Homo sapiens: one gene and its partners. The protein of the gene in region 4 purifies or fractionates together with the protein of the main gene of each other region. This does not show direct contact. Each region holds a gene or a part of one and is shown on either strand. Other genes may lie near its edges. The genes, in order: ASRGL1, CHD5, DENND10 and STMN2.

Region 1 (4,852 bases), on a different chromosome or scaffold from region 4:
AATTCTTCTTATCTAAATTCAATTTAATTACTTCAACAGCATTTCGTTGGTATTCTCATCGTGCACCTGAGACTTGTTATAGGGTGAAATATAAGTTTAGTCAAGATATTCCATCTTTGGGCATATCTAGAAGACACTGCATTTATTCCCTCTATTGTTCCAAAGCACTACCATTAGTGGCACAGTGGAGGTCATGCATCCTAGAAACAAATTTCAAATGATGGGCTGTATATGTCACATAGTATGCTTCTGGATTCTTAGCCAAGCTTCTTGCTTGTACATCTCTCATTTACCAACCACATTTGCTCCATTATCACAGGCTTGCCTTCAACAATCCTTGAAATTAGTGTCTAAAACAGAAAGTTTTCTTTCAATTCTTCACTTAATTCAAAAATCACACTTTAAGGAGGAGATATAAAGCCAATGAAACATGGAATGATTTAGGCTTGTTTTTCTTCAAGCAGTAATGGTCCACTCATGGTACTATCAGTACCACGGTACACTCTAGTTGAACTGAGTAACTATTTTATTAAAAAACTTTGGGCTGGGCACAGTGGCTCACGCCTGTAATCCCAGTACTTTAGGGGGCTGAGGCAGGCAGATCACGAGGTCAGGAGTTTGAGACCAGCCTGGCCAACATGGTGAAACCCCCTCTCTACTAAAAATACAAAAATTAGCCGGGCATGGTGGCATGCGCCTGTAGTCCCAGCTACTCGGGAGGCTGAGGCAGAAGAATCTCTTGAACCTGGGAGGCGGAGGTTGCAGTGAGCCGAGATTGTACCACTGCACTCCAGCCTGTTGACAGAACAAGATTCTGTCTCAAAAAAAAAAAAAAAAAAAAAAAAATTGGCCAGGTTTGGTGGCTCACCAAAGCACTTTGGAAGGCCAAGCAGGAGGGAAGATCCCTTGAGCTCAGGAGCTTAAGACGAGCCTGGGCAACATGGCAAGACCCCGTCTCTACTAAAAATAAAATTAGCCAGGCATGGTGCATGCCTGTAGTCCCACCTACTTGGGAGGCTGAGATGGGAGGATCACTTGAGCCTGGGAGATTGAGGCTGCAGTGAGCTACGACTGTAACACTGCACTCGAGCCTGGGTGACAAAGTAAGACCTTGTCTCAAAAAAACAAAAAAACAAAACCCCACAAAACCAAAAAATTTATTGACAAAAAAATTTTTACAAATGATTTCATGTCTCACTTTATTCTCCATTAAACTCATAATCTGTTGGAATTCTCTATCCTAGGTAATGATCATTACTTTCATTATTTTTGTCTTAATTATATGTTTGGCATTTTACCAAATTTTGAAATCTCTTTTACTGAAACCTAGAAAATTTCCATTGTTTTTTGCACACACTGTACTGACGGTGTCATGAAAAGAATGATTAGGCTTGGCTAAATATTGGATACATTGTATTATTCTTTCAAGAACATTACATCAGTATTTTATATTGTTTTCTGTTTCCGGTAAAATCAATTGTTTATTCGGCCTCTTTCCCTCAATTCCTGTAACAGGGTGTGTGTTTTATTGTGTGTGATTCTTCATGATTAGCAATTAAATCTTCCGTTAGTAAAGAAGGAGGTTGCCATGATTTCATCTGACTTGTTCAAACTGTGGATTTGGTGAGAATAATTTTCTTACTAATTTTAATTGTTTTGATTAATAAGTAGATCTTAATTGAACAAAACCTTTGTAATGTCTTGTTTGTGAATTTTATGTGGGTCACCCTGGAAGAAGACTGCTTGCTTTTACTGCTTCCAGTGTTGGAAAATGCAAGCAGCCTGCTTCTTTGAAGATTTTTACTTTCTTTTTCATTTTTTCTTTTGTGAGCTCCACTTTATAGCATTCTTTTTCTACCAAAATCTTGACTTATACTCATTTTCAATAATCTAAGGGATTAAAAGTGAAATATAATTATATCCAAAGTATAAAAAAATGAGAATGTATTTTCATAAAAAAATAAAGAGCTAATCTAAAAAAATTAAAAAAAAAAAAAGTTGGCCGGGCATGGTGGCTCATACCTATAATCCTAGCACTTTGGGAGGCCGAGGTGGGCGGATCACCTGAGGTCAGGAGTTCGAGACCAGTCTGGCCAACATGGTGAAACCCTCTCTCTACTAAAAATACAAAAATTACCCAGGCGTGGTGGCGCACACCTGTAATACCAGCTACTCAGGAGGCTGAGGAGAACTGCTAGAACCTGGGAGGCAGAGGTTGCAGTAAGCCGAGATCGTGCCACTGCACTCCAGCCTGGGCAACACAGTGTGACTCTGTCTCAAAAACAAACAAAACCAAAAAAAAAAAAAAGAAAAGCAAAAAACAAAAAAAAGAAGTAATTTGCAGATATAATTTCCAAAAAGTTACAAAAGTAATTGTAAAATATACAAAATTTTTATTAATGTTAAAGTTAAAATATGAATTATAATTAGTAAATACAATACATAAAGGCTAAAATTACATGAAAGCTAAAAATTTTACCACTGTATTTTTGAAATTAACTGCATCTTTTAAATATTTTCATCAAAATAAAACCATTCATAATTCTAACAGTCAACATCCATGTAGTTGCTAACACGGAGAGTTAGCAACTACAGGAGCTTTTTGTTTTTCTCTGTTATCAGTTTTTCTCACACAGGTTCTGTCTAGACCTGTGCTGTGCACTTACAGAAGCTGCAGCTCCATGTGGCTACTGAGTGGCTGCTAGCTAAATGTGGCTGTCCTCAGTGAGATGTACTGTAAGTGTAAAACACACCAGATTTTGAAGATTTAGTACAAAAAAAGAGCAAGACATCTTATAATTTCTTATATGCATTACATGTTGAAATATTTTGGATATATTTGGTTAAATAAAATATATTATTAATTTCACTTTTTTTTTTTGAGACAAAGTTTCGCTCTTGTTGCCCAGGCTGGAGTGCAATGGCGCGATCTTGGCTCACTGCAACCTCTGCCTCCTGGGTTCAAGCGATTCTCCTGCCTCAGTCTTCTGAGTAGCTGGGATTACAGGTGCCCACCACCATGCCTGGCTGATTTTTGTATTTTTAGTAGAGACAGGGCTCACCATGTTAGTCAGGCTGGTCTTGAACTCCTGACCTCAGATGTGATCCACTGTGGATGTGGCCACTAGAAAATGTCAAATTACATTTGTGGCTCTCACAGTATTTCTACTGGATGGTGCTGTTCTAGACCTACCCATACACAAACTGAAGAGTAACAGTCCCCATGTGCAACTTCTACAGACACTACACTAACTCATGAAAATCTTCAGAGTCCAGAGTGCTAACCATTACACCACAGAACCCTCTCTGTAACAATCTTCAGAACTAAATATTCCAACATGCAGAGAGGCAAGAAAATGGATACCTAGCACTACAGGGAAATAATACTTTGTGATGCAAGAATCTATTTCATCAGTTAATTAATTTGTCTTTTTCTCTTACCTAAGTCCTTCTGCTGTTCGAATCTTCCCCACACTCCAAAGCAATGTCCATTTCTGATGTCAACAGTGGCACTACCCACAAACTTTGAACTCAGGTGCCTTTTGCTTCCAAGACATAGAGCAACGGATGTGGAGATTTCCTTGATGGCTGAGTGGTGTTAGTCACAAGAGCAATGATTGGGGTTACTGGTCAAGCTGTGCCAATGTTGAGTGACAAAGGGGTCCTATGTGTTCTGGAATAAGTCAATTGTTTTGTGTGTTTATGGTATGAGGGTCCTTTAAAGTGCAGGGACCATGGCAGGAACCCCTCTTGCTTACGTGTAAAGCAGCAGTGGCTGGTGGAGAGGTGTTAATAAATTTCTGGAAAGCAATGTGGTGACATCTTTCAAAATGAACGTAAATCATGCATAAGGCAACCCCACTGCTATGACTCTAGCCCACAGACACAAAAGCACACTCAGTCAGGCTGTCAACAGCTGCCAACATAAGGTCAATCTTTTTTTTTTTTTTTTTTTTCTGAGACGGAGTCTCGCTTTGTTGCCCAGGCTAGAGTGCAATGGTGGGATCTTGGCTCACCGCAACCTCTGCCTCCCGGGTTCAAGCGATTCTCCTGCCTCAGCCTCCCGAGTAGCTGGGATTACAGGCACGCACCATCATGCCTGGCTAATTTTTTGTATCTTTAGTAGAGACGGGGTTTCACCGTGTTGCCTAGGCTGGTCTTGAACTCCTGAGCTGAGGCAATCCGTCCGCCTCGGCCTCCCAAAGTGCTGGGATTACAGGTGTGAGCCACCGCACCCGGCCAAGGCCAATCTTTTAAAACAGACTCTGAACCTGAGGAACACATCAGAATTACCTGGGAACCCTTTTTATAATATACCTGTCTGGCTTCTCCACCTCAGATCTATTTAAATCTGATTCTTCTGGCGGGGTGGCCTAAACATGCATATTTTGAAAAAGCTCCCTAGGTGATACAAGGTATACCTCTGATTAAATATCATTACTCTAAAAAGTATGCGGAGTCAATAGATTTAATTCCATTATAAACTCCCAGGCCATATTCACATTTTACTTTCAAATTTTGCTTTAAATAAGCAGTCCTTTATTTAGGATTTCAAAATCTGTAACAGAAAACTGTAATTCAGAAAATGACTAATTTGAATTTCTAAGAGTTGTGCTGATTTCTCTAAACTATGAAAGAGTACTTAAGTTTATAAGGTACACTAGATCACAGATAACCTGTTTAGTCTATTTAAGATAAACTGATCAAGAAGAATCCAGATAACTGATACATTAATACGTGAAATTCTTCTACTAAATCATGTCAGAGGCTGGGCTCGGTGGCTCATGCCTGTAATCCCTGCACTTTGGGAGGCCGAGGCAGGTGGATCACCTGACGTCAGGAGTTTGAGACC
Region 2 (4,852 bases), on a different chromosome or scaffold from region 4:
AAGGTGGCTCATGCCTGCAATCCCAACACTGTGGGAGGCCGAGGTGGGTGGATCACTTGAGGTCAGGAGGTCGAGACCAGCCCAGCCAACAGTCTCTACTAAAAATTAAAAAAAAAAAAAAAAAAATGGCCGGGCGCAGTGGCTCACACCTGTAATCCCAGCACTTTGGGAGGCCGAGGCAGGCGGATCACGAGGTCAAGAGATCGAGACCAGCCTGGCCAACATGGCAAAACCCAGTCTCTATTAAAAATACAAAAATTAGTTGGGTGTGGTGGTATGCACCTATAGTCCCAGCTACAAGAGATCGAGACCATCCTGACCAACATGATGAAATCTCGTCTCTACTAAAAATACAAAAATTAGCTGGGTGTGGTGGTACACGCCTGTAGTCCCAGCTACTAGGGAGACTGAGGCACAAGAATCACTTGAACCCGGGAGGCGGATGTTGCAGTGATCCGAGATGGTACCACTGCATTCCAGCCTGGGTGACAGAGCGAAACCCTTTCTCCAAAAAAAAAAAAAGTCCATTAAGTCCATGTATAGAGGCCTGAGCTCCTGGCCTCCCCTCACCAGGGGGCCTGCAGAGGGTTGGAGTCTACCTCTCTGCCAGGGAGAAATGAGCGGAAGTACAGCCACCTGCCCTTCTCTGAACCCAGGCCTGCTGAGGCCAGACATGGCACTGGGGTGGGTGGCCTGCAAGAAGCCCCAACCTCTCGGCAGCTGCTCCGGGGAGGGCGGGGCCTTCTCCGTCTCCTCTGGCCGCTCCTCTCGGGCTCTCTCCTTGCTGGCTGGGCTCTCGTGCTTGTCCTCACTCTCCACTCTATCCAAGGCGGCTGGAAGGGCCTGCAGAGGAAAAGCCAGGAGAACTACAAGGCCTGGGGCCTCACCAGGAACGGAGGGCGGGGAACGTGCGCTGGGCTGGGAACCCAGTCTCCTGGCTCCCGTCGCTTGCTCCTAGCCTGCTCCCCGCCGATTCAGAGCCCCGAAAAGGGAGCCAGGAGGCCTGGGTTCCACCTCGCTGTACAGGGCCTGAGAAGGTCCCCAGACCCAACCTCCACCCCACACACACCACAGGCCCAGACGCCAGCAAGTTCCACACCTGGACTTCCAGGGGCTGCCTTGGCTTCTGTGCCCCGGGGTCTTTCTCATCCATGTAGCCCAGCTGGGCTTCCATTTTGTCTGAAAGATCAAGGGAAAGAGCTGAGACAGGTGGGCTCAGACGGGAAGGAGTAGGGCAGGGAGTGGGGTGGCAGAGAGGAGAGATGGGGGCTTGGCCTTCGGGAGGCTCCACTGCAGCCAAGCACCTCCAGGAGAGACAAGCAGGATCCCCGGCTAAGTCAGAGAGGCCAGGCCAGGCCTTTGACTCAGGAGTGCTTGGAGGACCTTGAACCCAGTAAGACCAAAGTGAGGGGCTGTCAGGACGGGGCCGCACACAGCCGTGGCTGCTCATCTGGAGGCAGGGAAGTGAGGCAGATGGAGGCCCAGATTGGGAGCCACGACACCCGCTCTGGTCCCAGCTTTCGGGCGGGCTGGCTGGTGTGTGCCTCTGGACAGGGGGTGAATTTCCTCCCTGCCAAGCCAGCCGCCAACACACTGCAAAGTGCTGGTCACTTACACAGCTCTGAGAAGCCCCGGGAGGTGGGCACAGCCGGGAAAGCGGAGGCCCACAGAGGTTAGGTGACTTGCCCAAGGTTAGACAGAGTTCAGGCCAAAGCCAAGAAGCAAACCAAGATGTGTCCACCTCCAAGGGCTCCCTTGTGCTTGGAGGTGCAGCTTCTCAGGGCCTGGCCTCACCCATCACCATGGGATAGCTATGTCCGCCCCAGGCCTGTGAGGCCCAACCGACGGACCAAGTACTTAACAGGTATTTGCTTCACCCAAATAAATACCTAGATCACCAAAGTGACACGGGCACAAATGACCCAATTAAGTGTGCAAAGAATCTGAAAAGACATTTCTACAAGTCTACAAACAGCCAATACGCACACCGAACAACATTCAGCGTCCTTGGCATCAGGGAAATGCCAATCAGAACCACAGTGAGACACCACCTCATGCTCCCAGGACAGCTAGAACCATGAAGGCAGAGAACAATTACTGCTGAAGACGTGGAGAACCTGGGACTCCCGCACAATACTAGCAGGAATGTAAAATGGTACAGCTGCTTTGGAAAACAGTCTAGTAGTTTCTCAAAAGGGAAAACAGGGTTATCACACGGCCCAGCAATTCCATTCCTAGATATCTGCCCAAAAGAACTCAAAACGTATGTCCACGCAAAAACATAAAACACAGCAGCATTATTCACAGCAGCCAAAAAGTAGAAACAATCCAAAATCTATCGACAGCGCAATGGATAAGCAAAATGCAGTAAATTCATACAAGAAAACGTTATCGGCCAGGCGCGGTGGCTCACGCCTATAATCCCAGCACGTTGGGAGGCCGAGGAGGGTGGATCACCTGAGGTCAGGAATTCAAGACCAGCCTGGCCAACATGGCGAAACCCCGTCTCTACTAAAAATACAAAAATCAGCCAGGTGTGGTGGCGGGCACCTGTAATCCCAGCTACTCGGGAAGCTGAGGCAGGATCGCTTGAACCTGGGAGGCGGAGGTTGCAGTGAGCCGAGATCACTCCATCGCACTCCAGCCTGGGCAACAAGAGCGAAACTCCATCTCAAAAAAAAAAAAAGGAAGAAAGAAAGAAAAAGAAAACATTATCAGCCATAAGGCAGAATGACAGAATGACTGAAGCACTGATGCACGCTGCAATGTGGATGAACCTGGAACCCCCAGGCTGAGTGACAGAAGCCAGACAGAAAGGCCCACGCACTGTGCAGTGCCATATACACGAACCATCCAGCATTGCGAAATCCAGAAACAGGAAGCAGGTTAGTGGCTGCCCAGGCCTGGGGTGGGGGGATAAGGAGTGGCTGCTAATGGGTACAGGGTTTCTTTTTCAGGGGGAATGAAAATATTCCGGCCTTAGGCAGTGGCGATGGTTGTACACCCTACGAATATACTAGAAATCACTGAATAGTACTTTTTTTTTTTTGAGATGGAGTCTTGCTTTGTCCCCCCAGGCTGGAGTGCAGTGGTGTGATCTTGGCTCACTGCAACCTCCGCTTCCCAGGTTCAAGCGATTCTCCTGCCTCAGCCTCCCGAGCAGCCGGGATTACAGGCACGTGCCACCATGCCCGGCTAATCTTTTGTATTTTTAGTAGAGACGGGGTTTCACCATGTTGGCCAGGTTGGTCTCAAACTCCTGAGCTCAGGTGATCCTGCCGCCTCAGCCTCCTAAAGTGCTGTGATTAACAGGTGTGAGCCACCGCGCCCAGCCAGTTTTTTAAAAGAGTGAATTTTGCAGTATGTATATAAATTATATCTCGTAACTGTCATTAAAATGGAAAACTCTCTGTAGAGTGACATTTCAGCAAACAGAGGCTTTGGGGGAAGGAGAGGCCGTCTTCTGTGGGATTGTGGGTTAGACTAGGGGTTTCTGTGACCTTGCCACTTTCCATGACCCCAGTGCCCTCCCCGGCCCGCCCAGCCCACAGACCTGGCAGGCCCAGCGGGGCTGGCAGGAGGTGGGCAGGGCTGGCGGGCACTGGTGTGTTGGGGTCCGAGGAGATCACCTCGCCCGACTTCTTCCCCTCGGGCCCCTCAGGGATCAAGTCTGGGGTGCTGTACTTCCCGTTGACATGCTCAAACTCCTGAACCTGGGGTGGTGGGAGGGAAGGTGGAAGGGAAAGAGGGAGGGCAGTGGTGGCAACTCAGCCCTAAGGGCCTCAGGGCAGCCAGGGGGGCTGAAAGTGTCACAGGCTTGGGGTAGCTGCTACCTCCGCCCAAGGCTGGCCAAGCCAGGCCCCTCCTGACCACAAGCTCCCCTGCCCACCCTCCCACCCTCTGTGTGTCCTCCAACTGTATGTAACCCACCATCCTGGCCTCCACCCCACAGGCCCCTCACCCAGAAAGGCTTTCCAGGTCAGTCCCTCTGGAGTGACTCGGACCCTGGGCAGCTGTGTGGCCTGAACCAGGCACTTGTTCTCTGACCACTGACCCACAAGGGACAGCACCAGGAGCCCAGGCAGCCACCAGGAAGGGCCCTACAGAGAGTTACTCACCCACCTTCTTCCTAACTAGTGACATGACCCCGATGCGGGTCAGCACGTGCTGCCTGGAGAGGCCCTCCCGGGGCACGCCGTCTGCGAAGGTCTCTGCACCATCCGCCCCCGGCTCACACAGGTGCCGCATGAAGAGGGACACATAGGCTCTGGGGTGGGGGGGGGGGACTGGGGCTCAGGGAGTGGGGGGCCGGCAAGAACCCTCTGAGAGGGCTGGCAGGACCCCAGGGGAACTCCTGGCTGATCTTCAACCATCGCCCACCTCCTAGTCAGGCCTGGGCCAGGCCCGGGAAAGGACAGAGAGGGCCTCCCTGGCGAGGGGACCTCCTAGGACAGCCCTGGGTGACCGGGATCTTCCTCGCTGCCATAACACCAGCTGGTTTGGGCAGGGGCGGATGGTCAGTGTTTGCAAATCAGCCCTGCCCGGCACCAGGACTCTAGCCACCCAAAGTCCAAGTGGCAGTGAACTTTCCAGACGGCCTCATCCTGGCGGAAGCAAATGCTGCCCTCTGTGGGGCTCACCCGCAGGACCCTGCCCTACTCAGGGGCAGGTGGTCACACCCTGGGCCACCACCTAGCCCCTTTACCTAAACTCCTTCTCGCTCTTCCCTCGAAGGTCCCGCACCAGCCAGTGGGAGTTGAAGGCGTCCTGCGGGGGCATGCCCCAGCGCATGATGGCGTTCAGAAAGGCCTTCCGCTGTCGGGCATTGAAGCCCAGCACCTGGGCGAGTGGA
Region 3 (5,404 bases), on a different chromosome or scaffold from region 4:
GGTAGAGTTTTGGCCGGGCACGATGGCTCATGCTTGTAATCCCATCACTTTGGGAGGCCAAGGCGAGTGGATTACCTGAGGTCGGGACTTCGAGACCAGCCTGACCAACCTGGAGAAACCCCATCTCTACTAATAATACAAAAATTATCCGGGTGTGGTGGGGCATGCCTGTAATCCCAGCTACTCAGGAGGCTAAGGCAAGAGAATTGCTTGAACCCGGGAGGCAGAGGTTGCAGTCAGCCAAGATCACGCCACTGCACTCTAGCCTGGGCAACAGAGCAAAACTTGGTCTCAAAAAAAAAAAAAAAGACAAAGAAAGATGTTAGAGTTTCTCCCTATCTCCTCCCACACAAATGCTTATCAACTAAAATTACATTAAGTTTTTAACTAGTTGGAATAATTCTTTTTTTTTTTTTTGAGGCGGAGTCTCACCGTCACCCAGGCTAGAGTGTACTGGTGCTATCTTGGCTCCCAGGTTCAAACGATTCTTCTGCCTTGGCCTCCCAAGTAGCTGGGATTACAGGTGCCCACCACCATGCCCAGCTAATTTTTGTAGTTTTAGTAGAGACAGGGTTTCGCCATGTTAGCCAGGCTGGTCTTGAACTCCTGACCTCAGGTGATCTGCCCGCCTCGGCCTCCCAAAGTGCTGGGCGGAATAATTCTTTAAATGGAGTTTTGCTCTTATTGCCCAGGCTGGAGTGCAATGCAGTGATCTCAGCTCACCACAACCTCCATCTCCCAGATTCAAGCTATTCTCCTGCTTCAGCCTCCCGAGTGGCTGGGGTTACAGGCATGCACCACCACTCCTGGCTAATTTTGTATTTTTAGTAAAGATGGGGTTTTGGTTTCTCCACATTGGTCAGGCTGGTCTCGAACTCCCCACCTCAGATGATCTGCCTGCCTCGGCCCCCCAAAGTGCTGGGATTATAGGCGTGAGCCACCGTGCCCAGCCGAATAATTTTTAATAAATACATAGAAAAGGTTTGTCGAAAACAAAACCAGAGATGAAGAAAATAGTGAAATATTTCAAACCATGTTGCATACCAACTGTGTGAATTTTGTATTTAAAATTGTTTAGGCCAAGCATAATGGCTCATGCCTATAATCCTAACACTTTGGGAACCCAGGAGGATCGCCTGAGGCCAGAAGTTCCAGACCAACCTGGGCCACATAGTGAGACCGCATCTCTACAAAAAAAAAATTTTAATTAGCTGGACATGGTGGTGTGTGCCTATGGTCCCAGCTACTCAGGAAGCTAAGGTGGGAGGATCAAGTTAGCCCAAGATTCAGAGGTTGTCGTGAGCTATGCACCACTGCATTCCAGCCTAGTCAACAGAGAGAGACCCTGTCTCTAAAGACTACAAATAAAAAATTGTTATTGAAAACAGAATTACCATTCCACCCAGTAATCCCATTACTGGGTATCTGCCGAAAGGAAAAGAAATCATTATACTAAAAAAGACACTCACATTCTGTTTTTTTTTCTCTCTCTGAGACAGGGTCTAACTCTGTCACTTGGGCTGCAGTGCGGTGGCGCAATCTCAGCTCACTGCAACCTCCACCTCTGATCTCAGCTCACTGCAACTTCCACCTCCCGGGTTCAAGTGATTCTCCTGCCTCAGCCTCCTAAGTAGCTGAGATTACAGGTGTGCACCACCACGCCCAGTTAATTTTTTGCCTTTTTAGTGAAGACAGGGTCTCGCTATATTGGCCAGGCTGATCAACTCCCAGCCTCAATTGATCCACCTGCCTCAGCCTCCCAAAGTGCTAGGATTACAGGCATGAGCCACCACGCCTGGCCTCTTTTTTCAATTTCTTTTTTTGAGACGGGGTTGGGGGGGGTCTCACTCTGTCACCCATGCTGGAGTACAGTGGCATGATCTCAGTTCACTGCAACCTCTGCCTCCTGGGACCAAGCAATCCTCCCACCTACAGGCACACCACACCCGGCTAATTTTTGTATTTTTTGTAGAGACACGAGGGTTTTACCACATTGCCCAGGCTGGCTGCAAACCCCTTTTAAATGCACGTTAGTGTGAATAATTAAAAAACTGCTGAGTTCAAAATATGATCATATGTCATCTTTTTATTTGCTATTAGTAGATAAAGACAGTTTAACTTAGCCTTAGTTCAAAAGTACCTTCTGGAGAAACTAAGTTACTTAGGTTTTGTTTTGAAGCAGTTTGAAAATCACATTAGAAATAAATACAGTAATCCACCTGGACAACATGTCGGTATCCCATCTCCACAAAAAATACAAAAATTAATCGGGTGGTGGTGCACGCCTGAGGTCCCAGCTACTCGGAGGCCGAGGCGGGAGGATGGTTTGGGCCTGGGAGGTGGAGGCTGCAGAGAGCGATGATTGCGCTACTGCACTCCAGCCTGGATAAGAGGGAGACCCCGTCTAAAAAAAAAAAAAAGAAGAAAGACAAAGAAATAAAAACAGTAAGCGATTCCCACATAAACGCACTGCTTTGAGGCACTGAAAAATAATCAGCATATTTCTTCAGTTTTGCTAAAGCCTAAGCAATGTTATTGCGCACTTGGGGAATAGAAAGAGTTTAGGGGTGTGCAAAAATCTCGGGAAAATAAAACTTTTTCGAAGGGAACCAACGGGTTCCATCCCCTAAATACTGCACGAGGCTGCCCAAAGATCCCCGTGTGATATTTTTTAATTATGGAAGATAATTACATTCCTCAGAGCTAACCGAGATTCCACCACACAGGATTGTGTAGAAACTCCTGCTTTATTTATGCACAAGCTCGATCACATGATGCAGGAGCTCTCCACTGGTGGGGGTTGGGGGCTCTGGGATACACTGCGAGGGTCCCACTCCCGGCTCTGTACGGCCTATGGTGTGTCCGTGCACAATGACGGCCTGGGCCTCCATTTGCTCCTCCGTGAAGTGGGCGTCAGACGTTTCCCACGGCCCCTCGGTCCTTGGTGAGAGCTAAAAGGAGACAATGTGTGTACAACGCGCAGCACCCGGCCCAGCAGTCTCCAGCTGCCCGGTCCCACGATGGGGGCCGCCCGGGCGGGCAGTCACCCGTGGCTCCGAGGCAGCCGCCCGCCCCCGGCTCGGGGGAACCGGACCCTGCCTCCTCCCCGCCGCGCCGCGCCGCGCCGCCAGCCGGCTGCTCCCGCCCGGCCCGGCCCCGCCCGCGCAGCGCCCCTCGCAGCTGCCCAGCCTGGGAGCGCTCGACGTCCCGGCTCCGCCGGGCAACCCGGGGCGTGCAGGGGGAGCTCCACCCCGGAATCTTGGAGGTCCCCGGGCTCCCTCGGGCCGGGCAGGCCCCACAGGCGGCCGCGGGCGGGCGGGCGAGGGCGGCGGGCCGGGTCCCCTGCACCAAGGAGGCCGGGCTCCGCAGTCCCCAGTCCAGGCCCAACAGGGAGGGGGCCGCGCCCTCCTCATGCGGTCGGCGCCGGGGGCCGCGGGAGCCCGGGCTGCCCCGGGCCGAGGTGGAGCAGAGGCAGAACCAGGGTGCGGGCTTCCAGGCAGGGCGCCTACGTCCTCACCGATCAGCCCGACTCCAAGCATCAGCTGAGTGTCCGCCACCTCGGCCGCAGCCATCTTCCGCCGCCGCGGCGCGCAGCTCTGGCTGCCGCCTGCAGGACCGGCCTCGCACCCGAACCCCGCCCCGCCCGCCGTAGGGCCCGCCCCCATCACAGGCCCCGCCTCCCTCCCCGGCCCATCATAAGCCCCGCCTCCCTCCCCGGACCATCACAGGCCCCGCCTCCCGCTGTAGGACCCGCCTCCCTCCCGCCCCGCCCCATCACAGGACCATCAACCCCCCCCGTCGGCCCCGCCCCACCCGCAGGCCCACCTATTCCAGCCCCAGTCCTCCCTGCCAGGACCTGCTCAGTGCAGCTCCACTCGTCTTCTGCCCGTGGCCCTTCGCCCTTGGAAACCTCCTTGAGTCTCCGCAGCCTGCCTCAATTTCTCTAATCCAGCTGTTCATCCTTCTTCTTCTCAATCCACTCCAATCTTTCTTCCCGTCGTAGGCTTTCCTTGTTCTACCTCTGCCCTCTGGTCAAGCTCAAAAGAACAGGTCACCTTGTTCCTAAAAAGAGGCGTCCTGAGGATGGAGGAAGGGTCTCCATCCATTCCTTCATCCAGCCACCCCCAAAACAAAACAAAACAAAAATTGAGGGCCTAATAAGGCACTGGGGATACCTTATAGGGCTGAACAAGACAGAGCAGTCCACTGGGGAAGACAGACAATTGGCGAGTAGAATAAATAATCCAGGCCAGGTGAGGTGGCTCACGCCTCTGATCCCAACACGATGGGAGGCCAAGGCAGGAGCATCACTTGAGGTCAGGAGTTCGAGATCAGCCTTGGCAACATAGTGAGACCCATCTCTACAAAAAAAATTTAAAAATTAGCCAGGCATAGTGGCATGCACCTGTAGTCCCAGCTACTCTCAGGCTGAGGCAGGAAAATCATTTGAGCCCAGGATTTTGAGGCTGCAGTGAGCTGTGATCCTGCCACTCACTCCAGCCTGGGTGACAGAGTGAGACCCTGTCTCAAAAATAAATAAATAGATAAATAGATGACAGATAGATAGATAATAGTAAAAAAGCTCAGAATGATATGTGCCCTGGAGGCAACGATATGTGCCCTGGAGGCAGTGTGTTAGAGAGTGGAGGTGTGCTGCTCTAAAATGGGTGTCAAGAAAGGCTTCTCTGAGAAAGGGATATTTGAACTGAGATCTGAATGATAGTAACGACTCAGACATTGGAAGATTTGGCTCCAAGATTCCTCCTCTGGATCTACTGTCTGCCCCAACCCCAAGTCACACAGAGCTAATTAGGGAGGGTCCTTGGTGTCTGCAGGAATACAATCCCACCCTCATCTTTTTTTCTTTTTTCTTTTTTTTTTTTTTTTTTTGAGATGGAGTCTTGTTCAGTTGCCCGGCCTGGAGTGCAATAGCGCGATCTCGGCTCACTGCAACCTCCGCCTCTCGGTTTTAAGGGATTCTCCTGCCTCAGCCTCCTGCGTAGCTGGGATTACAGGCGTGAGCCACTGCGCCTGTTTTTTTCTTTTTTCTTTCTTTTTTTTTTGGAGACAGTTTCTCGCTATGTTGCCCAGGCTGCAATTTATACATTGGAGTATATTTAGGTGTGTATATGGCATTCCTGTTTCTCTCACTAAACTGAACCCCTGGAAGGCAGCACCCTGAACTACGTGCCCTTCTATTCTCTGGGCTTCCTGTTGTAGTATAACTGTTAATGTGTCTAGTTTTCACAGAAAAGAAGCAGGTGTTTAGAGGCTGAGGAGTGGGACACAGATGTGGAATCAGTTTGGAAGCCAACTAGAAACTTGCACTAGGTGGGGCACGGTGGCTCACGCCTGTAATCCTAGCACTTTGGGAGGCTGAGGTGGGTGGATCACGAGGTCAGGA
Region 4 (4,852 bases):
CCCTTTCCCCCACAAAAAGGTAAATTTGTCTCCAGTTGTTCATTTTAAGTTATAAAGCAAATATATTTTTGCTTCCTGCCAGGATTATGTATGTTCATGTGGCTAAGATACATGTGCAAGTGCTTGCTAAGAGCAGGGTTTGTGTGCCAACGATTGCTGGAAAATTCTCTGCAAAGAATTGTTTGTGGCTGCAATGGGTGAGAATACACATATATAATTGAGATGATCTTCAACATAAGGTTATATCTATAAATATATAAATATAGTTTATGCACAAAATTTTAAGTTTTTTCCCCTGAAACTGTTCTTCCAACTGCTGATTCTTGATACAGCCTCAATCCTACACAGATACATGGATCGTGAAATGGTAGCCGCCATCCAAATAAAAATCCCACCCCAAATATGACAAACGCAAGCATCCTTTCTGGCCATAATTTAACTGCATTTGCAAATCATGAAAAAAACACTACTTCTGCAGTATTAAAATAATAGATTTTGAAATTAATTCCAATTTCAAAGATAATTAATTATCAGGGCGAGTGCTTTTTTCCTGATTCATTAAACAATTATGTATTCAGCATGATTGTAAGAGGTGCATATAATATTCCCCATTATCTTTTCTAATGAAGTGGGCACCTTCTGAATGGATATATAAGTAACTAGAAATGAAAAGCTGAGGATTTGGTCAGAATTTCAGGATAAAACTGAAAGAAATGGCAGTAGTTTATCAATTAATCTCATGTATTTAGTTTATACCAGGTGAGTAAGCTGAGCCTGCAATAAACACTCTCTGTCCCAGTGTAACACGTCGCAGGTAGCTAGAATGATAGGATAAATTAATAGACCTTGTGGTGTTTGTCTATGCACGTTAAAATTCTCTGAGAGAAAGTATATTTTAAAATGATAATTAAGATTGGACATTTGTGCTATTAAAATCTACAACTTTAGTCAAAATTCACAATGGTTTTTTTTTACAATAATGTGACTTACAGATTTGTAGTAAATTATTCTATTCTAAAAGAGAAATGAGTGTTTTTATTGTTACAGCTATTACCTCATTAATATTTTTAGCAAACTTTTATTTGTTGCATTGAAAGCAGTTTTAATTACTTTGGGTTTTTATTTTTCAAATTACTAATGGATAGATGGTGGAATAAGCATTTAATCATTTGGCACAATATGACTTCCATCAAATAGCTCATTCTCAGTGATTAAAAAATGCTACAAGAGGCTACAATTTACTCAGATTCAGGAAATGTCCTTTCAGAGTGCCATAAGGCTGATTCATATAATAAAATAGTTTTCTTCCCTATAATTTAAGATCAAATAGTTACTTAGTTCTGTGAATACCTAGCAGTAGCTATCAAACAGAATTTTAAAGTTAAATCTGTACAACTAACAATGAAGTGGAGGATGAATCGATACATATTGAATGGAAGACTTTGTCATTGATAAATTCAGGCCATCTTTAGGAAAATTCCGGATTTATCAATCACCATTATTTTTTACTTCAACTGAGTGTGACTGATCACATGCTCAGGCTACCTTGGTAGCTCATTGCTCACAGGAGGCTGAAAAAAGCTGGCCTCCGAGCAGGAGGAAGCTCAGAGCACAAACCTAGGCCTGGGCGTGGCCACTGGGAGCTGCTGATAGCGAACCCCAGCTCACACCAGTTTCTTTTTTGGTCGTGGGAAGAAAAACACATATTATCCTGTTGTCACAAGATCTGTGACCTTATATGAAAAAATGCTAGAATTTTTTCATTAAAAAAGAAAATACTGAACTAGCCAGTGACCCAGATGTTTTCAGAACCTAGACTGGTTCTGTCCATTGGAAAACCTCGGTGTCTGCATTAACTTTTCACCACACTAGAGGGCAATCATGTTCTCTAAAAAAGCAGATGATTGATGTAAACCTAGTTCCAAATATTAACTGTTTAATAAAATCTTTTCTTTTACCAGGAACATTCAAGTGTTTATTCAATAAGCTGATGCCATGCTTTACCCTAGTGGATGAACAGAGCTTGTACAATTTTCAAGGAGACAGGATGAAATGAGTGGTCATAATCTGAAAGTAGATACACGCCCTGGTTAATTATTCCCTGATGGTTTTACTTCTCAGTTTTATTACATTGTTATTATAATACCATTTATGTTACTTCTGAGATTTTGTAGTGGATAAATAGTAGAAAAATGTCAGTAGTAATAGCAAAGTTATTTAGCAGCCGAATATTTTAATGCTTAAAAATAAAGGAATAAATTAAAGAAAATCATTGTTTACTTCTTCATCGATTGAAATGTGCCCCCTGTTCAGAGCACATCTGAATATCAGAGTCTCCACCTGCAGAGAACATGCAGCTTAGCGAGTAAAACAGGCAGGTATGTGATACTGAGGAGGTGTACCAAAAACTGACTGCTGTTATTTTTCCCATCTTCTAAGTCTGTCTTTCTTTTCCATTTAAAGATACCTTTTTAAATCTAATCCAATGTGATTTCAATCTAGTTTTATCAGATTTCAACAATTATTGAGCATCTCCTTGTAGTGGTTTTCTGTTTATTAGAAAATCGATGTTAATTTTAACGAAGTAAGAAGAAATATATAAGTATAAACTAATTTTGGGTATCATCAAAAGTGGATTTTTTAAATATGCATTGATAGAATTATTTTTTGATTACATTTTATGTAATTCTAATCCAGCTATAAAATATTTAATAGTGTCATATTACTGTGTTCCTCAAACTTTGATGTGCATATGAATTACCTTTGATTTTCATTAAAATGCAAATTCTGATTCAATACATCTGGCTTGAGGCAGACATTCTGTCTTCCGAACAAGCTCCCAGATGATGCTGATTCTGACCACTAAACACATCAGTTTTAGGGATATTAACTTGTAATATACAGGTATCCCTCCTGGTAAGCTCTGGTATTATGTCTTAACATTTTTAAATCTATGGTAATCTTTACAAAATATTTTACTTCCGAACTCATATACCTGGGGATTTTATTACTCTGGGAATTATGTGTTCTGCCCCATCACTCTCTCTTAATTGGATTTTTAAAATTATATTCATATTGCAGGACTCGGCAGAAGACCTTCGAGAGAAAGGTAGAAAATAAGAATTTGGCTCTCTGTGTGAGCATGTGTGCGTGTGTGCGAGAGAGAGAGACAGACAGCCTGCCTAAGAAGAAATGAATGTGAATGCGGCTTGTGGCACAGTTGACAAGGATGATAAATCAATAATGCAAGCTTACTATCATTTATGAATAGCAATACTGAAGAAATTAAAACAAAAGATTGCTGTCTCAATATATCTTATATTTATTATTTACCAAATTATTCTAAGAGTATTTCTTCCTGAATACCATGTGAGAAAATTCTTAAGAATTTATTGAGTATGACTGTATATTTGAAAAGAGTGTTTTCTTCTGCTTATCTAAGCCAATAAAGGATCTTCATTATTCAATTCTAACTTTCTAAGGAAGTCAACCTACAGATCAGAAAGAGGATCTTCAAGGAATAGCATCAAAGACATAGTCAGGTCTCCCATGCAGTGACTGGCTGACCATGCAGCCATTACCACCTTTCTGGAAATATTATGCTGCAAAAATGATACAATACACGAAATATCTCAAATTAAAAAATATAACATTTCCCAAATAGGGCACTAAAAACATGATCCCAAATAAAACTAGCTTCAGGGTTTGCAGAATATACTGTTACTCAACACAAAGTTGGACTAAGTCTCAAAGTTAGCCATTCAGTTGTTGTTAACAGTTCATTTCAGGGTCTCTCAGAAGCTGGGAAACTTTCCATTTTTGCAATTTCTTGTACATTGAAGGAAAGGAAGACACACTTAAGACAGCATTACAAAAGTAATTCATGTTTTAAATGTTTAATTCTGGCAGTCGGGCAGGGCTCTCTGTATAACCTCATTTGGAGATGACAAAAATCTAAACTTGAGGGCCTCGAGCCAATAAGTCTTCCTATTTCTTTACTCAAACATTTTCCCGCAATGGTGCTTTCTTTCAACTGTTTTTCTGGTGTATTCATAAATTCCAGATTCTCTATGGGAAGTAACTTTTATTGATTGATTTAACCCTTGTATAGCACATATAACATGCAAGGCATTGTTCTAAGAACTTTCCACATATTAACTGTGTTAATCACTTAATAATCCTAAGTAGGTTCTATTACAGATATGGAAACTGAGGCACAGAAAGTTGAAGTATCTTACTCAAGGTCACACAGTTAGTCAGATCCAGAATTTGGGCCCAGGCCATCTGGCTTCGGAATCCATCTTTCACCGATTGCTGCTAGTCTCATATCTGTTCCATGTTAGAGGTGAGCTCCCATTGCAGAGGTCACACCTGTGATATCACCATTTTATTTAAACAGACCAGAGATGGTCTTCTCCTTTCTGATCACAGACTCACCTTGAAGAGAAAATACTTCCAAATTGATGCCTAGTTTTAATAGCTTACCTGGGGCTTATTCAAATAATTGCCATGATTTAGGCTTTGGGAGAAAGAGAGCTATGAGGCCGTGTGGGTTGTAACGTATGAGACACATGGCGTTCTGCAGGCTCAGCACAGCATCGATTTCTGGTGGGAACACACTCTGATGACCAGTTCCAGAAATAACATTGACTTAATCTCCTCAGTCCCATCATGGTTAGCACATTTCAAAATGCCTCCTTAACTACTTCCATAGGCCAGAGATATTTAGTTTTAACATTTTGTTGAATAAAATAAATTTACACATTCACATTTAATATAACTATTAGATGTTATTTCAAGATTCTCTTCATATTACCATCAAAGCAGGCAGGCAGGCAGGAGAGAACTGTAG

Evidence for each region.
Region 1: the proteins of STMN2 (region 4) and ASRGL1 purify together in Homo sapiens (affinity purification with mass spectrometry; one large-scale study listed by BioGRID and IntAct). This does not show direct contact.
Region 2: the proteins of STMN2 (region 4) and CHD5 purify together in Homo sapiens (co-immunoprecipitation; one large-scale study listed by IntAct). This does not show direct contact.
Region 3: the proteins of STMN2 (region 4) and DENND10 purify together in Homo sapiens (affinity purification with mass spectrometry; one large-scale study listed by BioGRID and IntAct). This does not show direct contact.

What each region holds. Positions count from the first base shown.
Region 1 is NC_000011.10:62,357,476-62,362,327, reverse strand, and holds part of ASRGL1 (isoaspartyl peptidase/L-asparaginase), read right to left. Parts: intron 3,812-4,852; exon of another isoform or gene 3,447-3,811; intron 1,624-3,446; exon of another isoform or gene 1,397-1,623; intron 1-1,396. UniProt on the Homo sapiens protein: Has both L-asparaginase and beta-aspartyl peptidase activity. May be involved in the production of L-aspartate, which can act as an excitatory neurotransmitter in some brain regions. Is highly active with L-Asp beta-methyl ester.
Region 2 is NC_000001.11:6,120,395-6,125,246, forward strand, and holds part of CHD5 (chromodomain-helicase-DNA-binding protein 5), read right to left. Parts: intron 4,840-4,852; coding exon 4,706-4,839; intron 4,268-4,705; coding exon 4,123-4,267; intron 3,714-4,122; coding exon 3,554-3,713; intron 1,180-3,553; coding exon 1,100-1,179; intron 844-1,099; coding exon 711-843; intron 1-710. UniProt on the Homo sapiens protein: ATP-dependent chromatin-remodeling factor that binds DNA through histones and regulates gene transcription. May specifically recognize and bind trimethylated 'Lys-27' (H3K27me3) and non-methylated 'Lys-4' of histone H3.
Region 3 is NC_000010.11:119,102,311-119,107,714, reverse strand, and holds the start of DENND10 (DENN domain-containing protein 10), read right to left. Parts: upstream 3,603-5,404; 5' UTR 3,573-3,602; coding exon 3,518-3,572; intron 2,951-3,517; exon of another isoform or gene 2,693-2,950; intron 2,405-2,692; exon of another isoform or gene 2,231-2,404; coding exon of another isoform or gene 2,220-2,230; intron 1-2,219. UniProt on the Homo sapiens protein: Guanine nucleotide exchange factor (GEF) regulating homeostasis of late endocytic pathway, including endosomal positioning, maturation and secretion, possibly through activating Rab proteins such as RAB27A and RAB27B.
Region 4 is NC_000008.11:79,613,741-79,618,592, forward strand, and holds part of STMN2 (stathmin-2), read left to right. Parts: intron 1-4,852. UniProt on the Homo sapiens protein: Regulator of microtubule stability. When phosphorylated by MAPK8, stabilizes microtubules and consequently controls neurite length in cortical neurons.